3 separate regions of the Homo sapiens genome follow, and all the other regions are linked to region 2. Evidence: fine-mapped expression QTL. A gene starts in region 2. Each other region holds a variant in brackets. All regions are shown on one strand. Distances are between the middles of the regions.

Region 1 (4,314 bases), 53 kb before region 2:
CCTCCCGAGTAGCGGGGATTACAGGCATGTGCCATCACACCCGGCTAATTTTGTATTTTTGGTAGAGACGGGGTTTCTCTATGTTGGTCAGGCTGGTCTCAAACTCCCGACCTCAGGTGATCCGCCCACATCAGCCTCCCAAAGTGCTGGGATTATAGGCGTGAGCCACTTTGCCTGGCCGGTATGTAACTTTTTCAACTTAGCAGCTATATTCTTTAGGAATAGAATGGAAGGCAGGTTTGCCCTAAAGCTCCCAGCTTAACTTTTCCTTTTGGCTTAGTGATTTGGGGGTCCCTGGATTTATTTTCCTTTCACATTTCCTCCCGTTTCTTTTTAAATTCTTTCAGATAAAGCATTTTACAAGAAAGTGAGTCTCCTCTAACATGATATTTGGAGGAGAAGAGCCATCTGATCTCTCATGGCTACGATGGTTTATTCCCAGTTGGGTAGGACACACATTATTAGGAGGGCTCATTTTTAGCAGGTTGTGAAGTCTCACATCCTATGAAGAGAAAATATGGGTAGGAAAGGAGAAAAACAGCGACAAACAAACCAAAAAAGATAATTCTGGAAAATCAATATGGGCCATAATACTTTGAAGTCCATACATCAGCAGGCAGGTATGAGAGTGGTTTATGTATGTACATAGGTTGTTCTTATTTACTTCTGAAGTTTAAGTTGTCTAGCTTCATTTTGCAGGGCTTTAAGAAAGCACAGTTTAGTTTTCAGTGATTTAAAATTAGGAAAAAATGGGTAAGGGAAAGGAAAAGAAAGAAGAAAATAATTGAAAACATCATTTTGGAGACTTTTAGCCAGAAAAAAATTTTGGAATTCAGTCCAAACTGTAGAAAATAATAAAAATTAAATAACATTAGGCAAGACTAGAATCTAACAGCATGTATACTATAGTTGTTGAAACATAATTTTTCTCTCTCCAGTTTCCCATTTTTACTAAAGAGAAATCATGGTAGGACCTATTCGCTTTATTATACTTGGTCTGATTATTTGTATAAAGTGCCGCAAGAACAATTATTTTTCACACAAGCCTTTTTAAATGACTTTGATGGAACTCTATTCCATAGAAAAAGTCTCAGATAAGACTTTTTAAAAGCCGAGCCCGGCCATGGCTTTGTACCATCGAATACATATGAGTTGGGTAAATTCCCCTCCTCTAGAGGTCCCAAGATCACTTGGGGCTCCTGGGCTTGTCAAAAAGTGACATTCTTTACTTACCACAAATCAGAAACCCTGTATAGGGTCTGTGTAGACAAGGTTTGGGGCCTGTTTTCCCAAGGAGCTTTTATTGGCTCTGTAACTCAAGTTTGACTCCTTAAAGAAAAGCACACCATTTCAGTCAAAGCCTTGGTAAAATAACCAGTTTCTCCAATGGTGTTCTGTTGCAAAAGAAAACATTCTTATTGCACTTATGCAAATAACTACATTGACATAAGTTAAGAATATTCACAAATAGTTTCCAAATTCTGGAGAAATCAGGTAAAGAGAAAGAAATATGCTCCAAATTTTGTTCACTGGAGTATACTTTACTGAATTGTTAAAAGCTGTCAATAGCTCAAAAGTAAAGTTTCCTTGACTCAGGAAAACATAAAAAAGGATCAGCAATTTTTTAAGGATCAGCAATTTTTTAGCAAAAAAGTCAACAATATCATTTCAGTCTTCTATTTGTTCGGTCCATGCAATTAACTCCTGTTTGATATTCACGAATACTTCAGCTCTCCATGAGAGTCCTAAAAGTTTACTCCTCTATTCCACTTTAAAAAAAAAAAAATGTTCCCAAGCAGACTCATGTCACATTTTTCTTTATTCTAATGTCACAATCTCCAGAGTAATTAGAAACCTGCATTCAAAAACACCTATCAAAATCCAATAGCTAATTATAAACGACCTTTTGAAGAGGACTGAAAATAAGACAATTGTCTGTGGATGACAAAGTCTTAGGACAGGGTTTTATAATCTATCAAACATTTGTGGAGAGTGTTTTACAAAAAAAA[A/AAC]AAAAAAAACAAACAAAAACCTTTGAGCTACACAGTGAATGTAAAGCTGAGGCTAGACAGGAATGGGATAGGGTGAATCTTCAGTCCCAGAGATCAACAGCCAATGGTTCATTTTTTGTAGGTTAACCTGACCTGGTGGAGTCCTCCATTGGTACCAAGCACAGTTCTTCACTTTCAACTCTAGATGACTTACCCCGGGGCACTTTTACCTTTTGCTTTCTGTCTAGCCTCCTACACAGTCTTTCTTTTACCTACTCTACTAGACTAAGTGATTATAACTGTTATCATCTTTTCTGAGCCTATAATCAAAAGTCAGTATCTGACAAAGAAGCAGATTGTTAAATCCAAGAATTTCTCTGTATCAGGAAAGTATTAATATGGATTCCTGCCTCCTCATTCATTAGTTGCACAGCTTCCTGCAACATAACAACTGGCCAGAAGATTCACCTGTGCAAATTGCCTGAGTGTTGGAGACTGCTTTTATTTGATCTCTCCCACCATCCACCCCGTTTTTGTTTTGTGTCACTTTCATTTGGTTAATAATATTCTAACAATATTTATCATTATAGTTATCTTGATTTGATGCAATTTTTCTTAATGAGATTGATAAAAATATTAGTCTTTCTTAATTCTTTATTATTTATTGTTTTGGATAACACACTGGAAAGGGAAATAGGAAAGGCTCTACATCGTTTGTCATATGTGCTCCACAATTTGCCCTCAAGTTTGATTCCTAGGTCCTACCACCCACACAAAACTGCCATCACCAGCCTGCTCCAATTCTACCCAATTACTAGCCATTGTCATAATTCAAAGTTCCTATGACCTCCTCCAAAGGAGCACAATTTTGTATTTGATCACTTTCTGACCTCCCTGGAATCTACCCCACCTCCAATCACACTAGGATTAGAATCTAAATTCTGCAGCTACCTTGATATCAGTCTCTGTAGGGAAGCAGCCTGCAGCCTCCTATGGACTCCCATCAAGACAGGTTACCTTTTCCCGCTACAGGGTGTTGCTCACAGATTTTTTTTACTAAGATGGGAAGCTGGAGTAGAAATGGGAACAGAGGGCCGGGCACGGTGGCTCACACCTGTAATCCCAGCACTTTGGGAGGCCAAGGCGAGCAGATCACGAGGTAAAGAGATCGGGACCATCCTGGTCAACATGGTGAAACCCCGTCTCTACTAAAAATACAAAAATCAGCTGGGCGTTGTGGCACGCTCCTGTAGCCCCAGCTACTCAGGAGGCTGAGGCAGGAGAATCCTTGAACACGGGAGGCAGAGGTTGCACTGAGCCGAGATCGCGCCACTGCACTCGAGCCTGGTGACAGAGCAAGACTCTGTCTCAAAAGAAAAAAAAAAGAAATAGGAAGAGAGAACTGATGGTAGGTATTTTGCTTTGCAATGACTCCAGACTGCTCTTCTATTTCATAGTGTCTGTAACTATGTGGGTGAGAACAGTGTAGTTTTTCCTTTATTCTTGCAACCACAGGACCAGGAGGCAATTGGAGGAGCCTCAAATAGCAGGGAAGGTTTTGGCTAGCTGAAGAAGGGGTATGGTGGGAGGGAGATATTGAGGCAAATCCCTTGGGAGACAGAATTGCAAGGGCAAAATAGATTTCCTTACCTGGCAGTGCCTTCTCTGCCTTTGTCCTGCCATCGCTTCTGCCTAGGATCCCCCAGAAAAGGATAGTACTGGTTTGCACAGGAGCAGAAGTGGTGAAAATGGGAAATGATGAGTGTGGATGGAGATGCTCATGGCAGGGTCTGTAGGTCTCTTTGAGGGGGCTCAACTCACAAAGTGCAGATTTTTATTGAAATATGAATGCTTGTAGAAAGGACATTTTCCTACTGAGCAATGGCAGTTCCATATTTCTTATCAGAAAGGAAGTAGGCCTCAGTCTGATTGAACAGTGAGGAGAGGGAGGATTCAACACTTACAAGTTCACCTGCATTGCATTTCCCAGAAGAAAGAAGAAAATCAATAACGCATTTCAAAGATCACGGTGCTAGAGACAGAGAACCACAATTTAAGCTTTTCCCTGGGCTTAGAGGCGGATGTCTCACTGCCAATTTCACGTCCAACACCGGAGCCTCGCAGTCCATTTTTCTCCCCAGCTGTTTTAGAAATATCCCCAAATATCAAGGACATCTGAATGAGTGAACCATCAGAATAAGGAGCGATTCCCACAGAGTTCCATCCCACAGGGAAGGGACGGGACCAGCGGGGCAGGCCTGAAGCCTGGGTTGAGCGGCGCTGTGCCTTTCATTCTTCACCGAGATCTCGGACCTAGAGTTTCCAG
Region 2 (4,000 bases):
TCTGTTTCAATGTGTTGTACCAGAAAAATGTGTTGCGGCATTTAATGTGTTTTAATCCGTTCAATGTGTTTGATAGGTTTAATATGTTTTAACCCGTTTTAATGGGTTGTGACAGAAAAAGCGCCGGCTAATGGTACCACACAATTACTAGTGCGAACAGCGGCTCGGTGCAATCACCGTTCTGCACGGCAAAACGGGGTTCAGGAAGTTCCTAGGAGATACTAGCGGTTGTAGGAGCGAAAAAGTGACAGCACTGAGAACCTAAGGACCCCGCGAACGGGAAATGTCACGTTGGGTGCAGCAACTGAGAAAACGCCCAGTGGGCGCCACTGGCAAACGTGCTGATACAAAACCGCCAGCTCTGCATAGGAAGCGGAGCCTCCAGACAGAACCCGGAACCTGATACCAGCGAGGCTAAGACCGAGCTCGGCTCCCCGGCTCCTGAGAGAATGAAAGTCAAGAAGCACGAATCTGAGACGCTCAAAATTAGAAGAAAAAAAAAATACATAATTTAAAATAATGAAAGTCTGAAATGCAAGTAAAAATGAAAAACACATCGGTAACATTGTCCTCAGAGCAAGACACAAAAATAATTTTAAGGTAAGCAAAAGTTACAGAGAACCAACCCTACAAAGAAGAAATTACAAATATGGCTAAGCGATGCAATGCCTACCATTAGAATATTTCTGTCAGATCTAAACCCCTGCAGGTTGCTCCTGTCATAATTTCCTACGAGAAAAAAAACAAAAATATCCACGGTTAAACGTGTTTAGCTACGTCTAAAAAATCGTAGTAGCTGGTACATCCCGATTTGGTCTACAAGAGGAAAAAGTCTCGATGGGCAGGACTTGCTATTGTCAAAGGGAGCTTGGTAAAACTGAGACATCGCGATCGCCGGCATTTCCTGACTTCCACGGGAGTTTTAAAAACACACAAGCATAGCTAAGACAGGACTCGATATTGCGAAACCAAACTTGGTATAAGAGCTCCCAACACTGCTAAACTGGTCATCGCTAAACCTTTAAAAAAAAAAAAAAAGCATTCGCTGGTACCCAGATTTCCACAGGAGTTAAACATTTCCTGCGCAGCTAAAGCAAGTCTTACCAGTAGGAAACCGGAACTTGCTAGGACTAAGAAACTTGAGGCTAGGCTGACCCCATGGTTGTTATGATTAGAAATCCGAGGCCACTGGAAACCCGGAGCTGCTGACCAACGAGTCACAGGGTAACTTCGCCTTCGCATGGGGAAACGGGTGAGTTCCTACGGCCTAGATATCGCAGCCAGGGCTAGACCGGTGTTTGTCTTAAGTCAGGACTTGCTTGGGCTGAGAAAATACATTTTGGCTATTCCCCTACTTGGACAGAGGGTGGAAATCCCAGGCACCGCGAAATCGAAACTTGCTAGGACTAAGAAGCCAACGACGCGCGAAACCGTGGGGTCCTGCGACAGAGACGCCGGCGGCGCCGCCACAGGACTGCGTTCTGGAGGCCGAGCCGGAACCCGTGCGGCGGCGCTGGGAAGAGACTGTGCCCCTGCAGCTCCCCTGTCACCGGCTCCAAGGAGCGTCGGGCTCCCCCCGCCCAGCCCTGCAGCACCCATCCGGCAACGCCAGACTCGGCGCAACGGGGGCAGCTGCGACTTTAAATCTCTCAGATCCGCGGCCTGAGGGCTGCCGCCACCGAGAAATGGAGGCACAGAGCTGTGAACAAGAGACCACGGCTCGCCGAAATGGCGGTGCCAGGAGCCTGAAAGGGAATGCAGCCGGCGGGGTTGTCAAGGACAACATTTGTTTTGGCGCAACCAGCGGTGCCGTCACCAAGAAACCGTCGACTCTGAGAAAAAAAGAGAAGTTCGGCTACCGAGAAACTCCGTGCAGCAAGTGCTGTGACAGCAAAACCGCCGGCTTCGCGCCGCTGGCGAAAGAGCCAACGGAAACGCCGGGTGCTGCGACCGCGAAGCCGGCACTAGAGGGCCTCGGATGGAGAAAGCCCCGCACCGAGACGAGGAAACTGTGCACAGCACGACTAGCAGTTGACACAAACAGAAAAGTGTCTCGTCTGCTCTCTGGGAGAAAGCGTGGATCAAAACCAGCAACTCAGTGGAGAGAACCCCGCAGCCACTGAAGAAGTTGCCCACGTGGCGGTGGGGCCAGAGAAACACCGCGATTTCGACGACAGCCGTAGGGATACCACAGAGAAACATGCGCGGCCACAGAAGTACATCCAGCTCCGCGCAATCAGTGGTTCTGCGATCCAGAAACCGCCAGCTGGGCTAGACTAGAAACTTCTAAAAAACTGTCGTCCCATAGCAGCTTTCCTAACCACGACAGACAGTCGCCTTTAGAGAGCACCTAACGGTGCTGAGACCGGCCTGGGCCAGCAAAAGCGCAGAGCGGTGCCAGTGCCAAGAAACGCCCGACTTGGTGAAACCAACCTTGTGACCACCGATTCCACTGGCTTCGCAGGACGCAACGGGCGAAGGCGCGGCGGAGAAACCGCAGGCTCCCTTCACCGATTATGCTGCGGGCTGGGGATGGTGGGGGGCACCCGCGAAATTGTGAAACCAGCGGCGCTGGGACCCAGCGATCAGCTGCCCGTAGCAAATGTCTGTGCAGTTGCAAAAGATAATTTTTGGCCGTGAGAAGGTTGCCGCCAGAGAGCGTCCGATAACGCTGACAAAGGCGTGGCGTTGCCAGTGAGAAACAGCCGGCGCTGGGAAAGGAACGGTGCAGCGACCGACCAACTGCGCGCTCGGTGCCACCAAAGTGCTACTGGCTCTACCCACTCTGTCCCCCACGGGCTTAGGGAAGTCTGATGTCTTTTTCTTTTCTTTTTTCCTCTGTCGCCTAGGCTGGTGCAGTGGTGTCATCTTGGCTCAGTGCAGCCTCGACTTCCTGGGATCCAGCGATCCTCCCGCTTCAGCCTCTAGAGTAGCCGAGACCACAGGTGAGTGCTACCACCCCCGTCTAATTTATATATATTTATATATATAAATATATATATTAAAATATATATTTTATATTTATATATAATATAAATAAATATATAAATATAAATATATATTTTTATATATTATATAAAATATATAAATATATATTTATTTATATATTATATATAATATATATATTATATAATATATATATTATATAATATATATATAATATATAATATATATATTATATATAAAATATATTATATATAATATATATAATATATTATATATTATATATTATATATAATATATATAATATATTATATATAATATATAATATATAATATATTATATATAATATATAAAATATATAAAATATAGTATATAATATATAAAATATATTATATATAATATATAATATATAAGATATATAATATATTATATATAATATATTATATATAATATATTTTATATAGTATATAAAATATAAAATATATATTATATATAAAATATATATTATATATAAAATATATATTATATATAAAATATATATTATATATGAAATATATATATATAAATATATATATATTAGTGACGGCGGTCTCGCTATGTTGCCCAGGCTGGTCTCGAACTCCTGAGCTCAAGCGATTCGCCCGCCTGGGCCTCCCAAAGTGCTGGGATCACAGGCGTGGGCCACCGAGGCCCGCAGGAAGTCTGTATTGTTCTTGCATTCCACCCAGTGCATTACGCAGGGGGAGAGTAGTGGGCTTATGCGCCGAGAACCAAGCAGATCCTGTTGGTCCCAGGAACAAAGTATAAACCATTCTGGTCGCCAACAGCTTCCTACGCAGGAAACAGCCATCCACCCTCTGTGACTGGGCTTTTCCAGGTCACCCCTCGCTGCCAGGCTCTCTTCCCGGTCCAGAGCCCACAGGATCCTACAGGAGGGGCCAACAACTGCTTGCCTTTGAAACTTGAAACTCTCGGTCTAAGGTTCCTTAGGAGCGTAAAAGGCACAGCGTTTTCTGATCGCAGCTTCAGGTCTCCCGCCCCTGTCCCGGTACCTCTC
Region 3 (4,354 bases), 29 kb after region 2:
TCCACCTCCCAGGTTCAAGTTATTCTCCTGCCTCAGCTCCCAAGCAGCCAGGATTACAGGTGCATACCATCACACCTGGCTAATTTTTGTATTTTTAGTAAAGACAGGGTTTCACCCTGTTGGCCAGGCTGGTCTCAAAGTCCTGACCTCAAGTGATCCACCTGCTTCGGCCTCTCAAAGTGCTGGAATTACAGGCATGAGTCACAGTGCCCAGCCGCAAAGTATATTTTTGTAAAATTTCATCAAGATAAATCTGGCTAAACCAATAAACTAATAATAACAAAACTTGGGTTATTGTTGACTAAAGGAAGGTGGCACAAAATGGAAACATTTTTAAACATTCAAAAAAAAAAAAAGACTGGTCAGGCGCAGTGGCTTACACCTGTAATCCCAGCACTTTGGGAGGCCAAGGTGGGCGGATCATGAGGTCAGGAGATTGAGACCATCCTGGCTAACACGGTGAAACCCCATCTCTACTAAAAATACAAATCCTGGCTAACACGGTGAAACCCCGTCTCTACTAAAAATACAAAAAATTAGCCAGGCGTGGTGGCGGGTGCCTATAGTCCCAGCTACTCGGGAGTCTGAGGCAGGAGAATGGCGTGAACCCAGGAGGCAGAGCTTGTTTGCAGTGAGCCAAGATCGCGCCATTGCACTCCAGCCTGAGCGATAGAGCAAGACCCTGTCTCAAAAAAAAAAAAAAAAAACAAGGATAGTCTTTACACAGAAGTGGTATGCACAGGTGAATTGTCTGGGAAGTCAGGATGTTGCACAGAAGCTATGCAAGTCATAGATTAGAAAAGCAAGAATCCACATTCATGCTTTCCAGCATAGATGAGGAGATACTTTTTCTCCACCTTCTTAGATTCAGTGGCTGGGCAGAGAGTGCTGTGAATTCATCTGACAACAGGCAGATTAACACGAGAAAAGGAATATAAGTTTTTTATTTTTTATTTTTTTATTTTTTTGTTTTGAGACAGAGTGTCACTCTGTCTCCCAGGCTGGAGTGCAGTGGCTCACTGCAAGCTCCCACCTCCCGGGTTCACACCATTCTCCTGCCTCAGCCTCCCAAGTAGCTCAGACTACAGGCGCCCGCCACCATGTCCAGCTAATTTTTTTTATTTTTTAGCAGAGACAGGGTTTCACCTCCCAAAGTGCTGGGATTACAGGCATTAGCCACCGCGCCCAGCCAAGTTTTTTAATGTTTAATCTAATGTGCATGGAGGCATCATAGAAAGAACTGAATATCCAAAAGTGTGGTGAAATTTGAGACTTTAGATACCATCTTAATGATAGTGGCAGGAGGCAGACAAATCCTAGGGAGACAAGGGTGGGTCCCTGGTGAAACCCCACCTTCAAACCAAAGACAGTTTAAAGCATGAAAGCCAAGCTACAAGTCTCCAGTAAATCCATGGACCGGATTAAGAATCTCTCTTCCCCTTTAGCACACTTCCCTCTGATTGATCCACACACTTCACTTAGTGCACTTTCCTCTGATTGATCCCCACACTTCACCTATTTTACATATACCTGCCCTTCCCTAATTGTTTTTTTACACAGTTGTGCCCACCTTTGAGTGGTGCTTTTGTTTTAGCCTTTTTTGCATATGCACAAACCAATCAGCATGCACTCCCCCATTCTGAGCCTATAAAAGCCCCAGACCCTGCCACATTGGGAGAGAGACCACCCAACTTCTGGTGGGAAACCATCCTCGAATCCCCTCTCCACTGAGAACTGTTTTGTGGCTCAATAAAACTCCTCTCTGCCCTCCTCACTTTTTGATTTTCAGCATAACCTCATTCTTCTTGGATGCAGGACAACAACTCGGGATCCACCTAACACGGGTACAAAGAAGGCTGTAACACGGGAAGCAGCTGTTGGGCCAAACCAGCCCTGGAGCTGTAGGCCAGAGCAAGACCACAGGACTGACAGAGCTGTTAACACGCTGACATCTTTCGGGCTGCAGAGGGCGGGACTGAAAGAGCTATTAGCATGTTGTAACACCCACTCTGGGGCTTTGGGGTCACGGGCATCCCTGTTTGGGTGCCATCACATTCCCCTCATCTGGATGCCAGAGTCCACCATAGGAGTCACTTGCAACATGCCTGGTCCAGCCACAAGTCCCACACAGAGCCTGCTCCTGTGCTGGTGCTTGGAGCTACCAGTGGAACCCCACACTCACTAGCTCACACACCCCTCCTGCCAGGGGCTGAGTGCACAGTCATGGTGGCCACAGGATCTGCACCAGAGGACATGCCAGGCACAGCCCAGCAAACCGAGTAGATGGGGCATCTCCTGTGGTTAGCCTGGGCTCCAGCAAGGCCTAGGTAGGGCATCGCCAGCCAGAGGTCTCTGGCTGGCAAAGTTGCTGAGAAACATCCTATGTCATTAAGGAGATGGGGAGGGGCAGAGGGGCACTTATGGAAATATGAATGATTTTTTTTTTTGAGACAGAGTCTCTCTCTGTCGCCCAGGCTGGAATGCAGTGGCGTGATCTTGGCTCACTGCAAGCTCTGCCTCC[G/A]GGGTTCATGCCATTCTCCTGCCTCAGCCTCCCGAGTAGCTGGGACTACAGGTGCCCGCAACCACACCCAGCTAATTTTTTGTATTTTCAATAGAGACAGGGTTTCACTGTGTTAGCCAGGATGGTCTCGATCTCCTGAACTCGTGATCCATCCTCCTCAGCCTCCCAAGGTGCTGGCATTACTGGCATGAGCCACTGCACCAGCCACAAATGATATTTTAGAAGATAAATGGTCCTTTAGAAGAATAGATAAAAGATATGACAGTTTTTAGAGAATGTCTTTTTTTGGGTAGGGTGGGTGTAATCACCCAATGGTTTCATCTTGCCCATTGTCCACAAAGGCCAATGCACTGAGAACAGCAGCTTTTTTGCAGCAAAGAAAGACTTCAATAATTGCAGGGCTGGCCAAGTGGAAGGACAGGAATTCATTCCCAAATCCACCTCCCTGAGAATTCTTTTTTTTTTTTTTTTTTTTTTTTTTTGAGACGGAGTTTCACTCGTACTGCTGCCCAGGCTATATAGTGCAATGGCACCATCTTGGCTCACCACAACCTCCGCCTCCCAGGTTCAAGCGATTCTCCTGCCTCAGCCTCCCGAGTAGCTTGGATTACAGGCATGCACCGCCACGCCCAGCTAATTTTGTATTTTTAGTAAAGATGGAGTTTCTCCATGTTGGTCGGGCTGGTCTCAAACTCCCGACCTCAGGTGATCCTCCCGCCTCGGCCTCCCAAAGTGCTGGGATTACAGGCATGAGCCATGGCACCCGGCCAGGCTGAGAATTCTTAAGACAGGATTTTTTAAGGATAGTTTGGTAAGCATGGGGCTAGGGGATGGGTTGATGTGTTGGGTACTATGGGGAACGTGGAAGTGGAGAATAGTGTGGACTTTTGAAAGGATGTCTGCCTAGGAGTGGAGTTGGGCATGAGGGCAGGACTAAAAAAGAGTGAGTGAAGGAAAAGGTATGCAGGGAGCAGAAGAGTGGAGGGGTGGCTCGGGGTTTGGAGACTTGCCCGTCAATTCCCACAACAGAGACTTGGGAGGACTGGGTGGGTCCTGAAAAATTAGGTAAAGCAGAGTAGGTTGCCCGGTATTAAATAAGAAAAAATACTGGCCTACCTGCCACCATCAGGGTTACCCTTGTCTTAGATGAAGCAATGGTAGTTGCCGGGGCGTCCATTCCAGGGCCCCATCAGTCTTCAGTGGCAAGGCCAGTGAGATCCGAGTAGGAGGTTTTGGCCAGCTCAGGAAGGGATGGGAGTGGTCCTTGTGGGGGCCGCTCACAGTCCAACTTCCAGTGGGGTCCTCTGCAGAGGGGGCATGGCCTGATGGGCTTACCTGGGTTTGGGCATTGTCTAGACCAGTGGCCTTCATTGCCATACTTGAAACATGCGCCAGGTGGAGGTGGATTGCTAGGAGGCTTCTGTGTGGAGCTGCGGCCCTGTGGGCCTGCAGGGCCCCGGATGGCGGAGTCAAGCATTTGAAACTCTGCATGTTTTTGCCTTTTATTTTCCTCATCACGATTGTTAAAGACTTTGAAGGCTAAATTAAGAAGGTCTCGTTGTGGGTTTTGAGAGCCATCATCAAGCTTCTGTAGCTTACGCCGAATATCGGGGTGGATTGGGACATGAACTAAAGGTTTAAAATAGTGGTTCCTTCTGGGCTGGTTGGGTCTAGGTTGGTATATTTTCTCATGACTTCAGTTAAACAAGAGAGAAAAAGGGCTGTTTTTTCGTCAGGATCTTGGGGGATTTCTGAAAGTTTTTCATAGTTTATCGCTTTATGGGCACCCTTTTTGAGTCCTGCAAGGAGACACAATTGTGGTCTCAATGGTAG

Alleles and levels. Alleles are on the strand shown, and positions count from the first base shown. SD is a standard deviation of normalised expression in the study named. Not every link is listed here.
In carriers of allele A in region 1, the expression in prefrontal cortex of the gene that starts at base 1,512 in region 2 tends to be higher than with AAC alone (moderate effect, 0.48 SD a copy in CommonMind).

Evidence for each region. PIP is the estimated chance that this variant, and not a neighbour inherited with it, causes the effect. A credible set is the group of variants that fine-mapping cannot tell apart.
Region 1: its variant is the best candidate, but not a certain one, in a credible set for the expression of ANXA2R-AS1 in prefrontal cortex (CommonMind, PIP 0.87).
Region 3: its variant is the best candidate, but not a certain one, in a credible set for the expression of ANXA2R-AS1 in pancreas (GTEx, PIP 0.86).

What each region holds. Positions count from the first base shown.
Region 1 is chr5:42,987,201-42,991,514 of GRCh38, forward strand. It overlaps FLJ32255 (a long non-coding RNA gene), which reads right to left. Exons shown (of 2, transcript NR_104643.1): 1 at 3,639-4,314. Among named protein-coding and RNA genes, the nearest start is that of FLJ32255, 4.0 kb to the right of the region's middle. The variant A/AAC (reference allele first, on the strand shown) is at 2,010.
Region 2 is chr5:43,040,623-43,044,622 of GRCh38, forward strand. It overlaps ANXA2R-AS1 (ANXA2R antisense RNA 1), which reads left to right and starts at 1,512. Exons shown (of 2, transcript NR_015447.1): 1 at 1,512-2,945; 2 at 3,821-4,000. The region is part of intron 2 of ANXA2R-OT1 (ANXA2R overlapping transcript 1); the gene reads right to left. It also overlaps a transcript of ANXA2R not described here. RefSeq lists enhancers at 1,006-1,085, 1,556-1,845, 2,045-2,582, 2,066-2,275, 2,356-2,555 and 3 more.
Region 3 is chr5:43,069,352-43,073,705 of GRCh38, forward strand. The region is part of intron 2 of LOC100506639 (a long non-coding RNA gene); the gene reads left to right. Among named protein-coding and RNA genes, the nearest start is that of ANXA2R-OT1, 4.1 kb to the left of the region's middle. The variant G/A (reference allele first, on the strand shown) is at 2,522.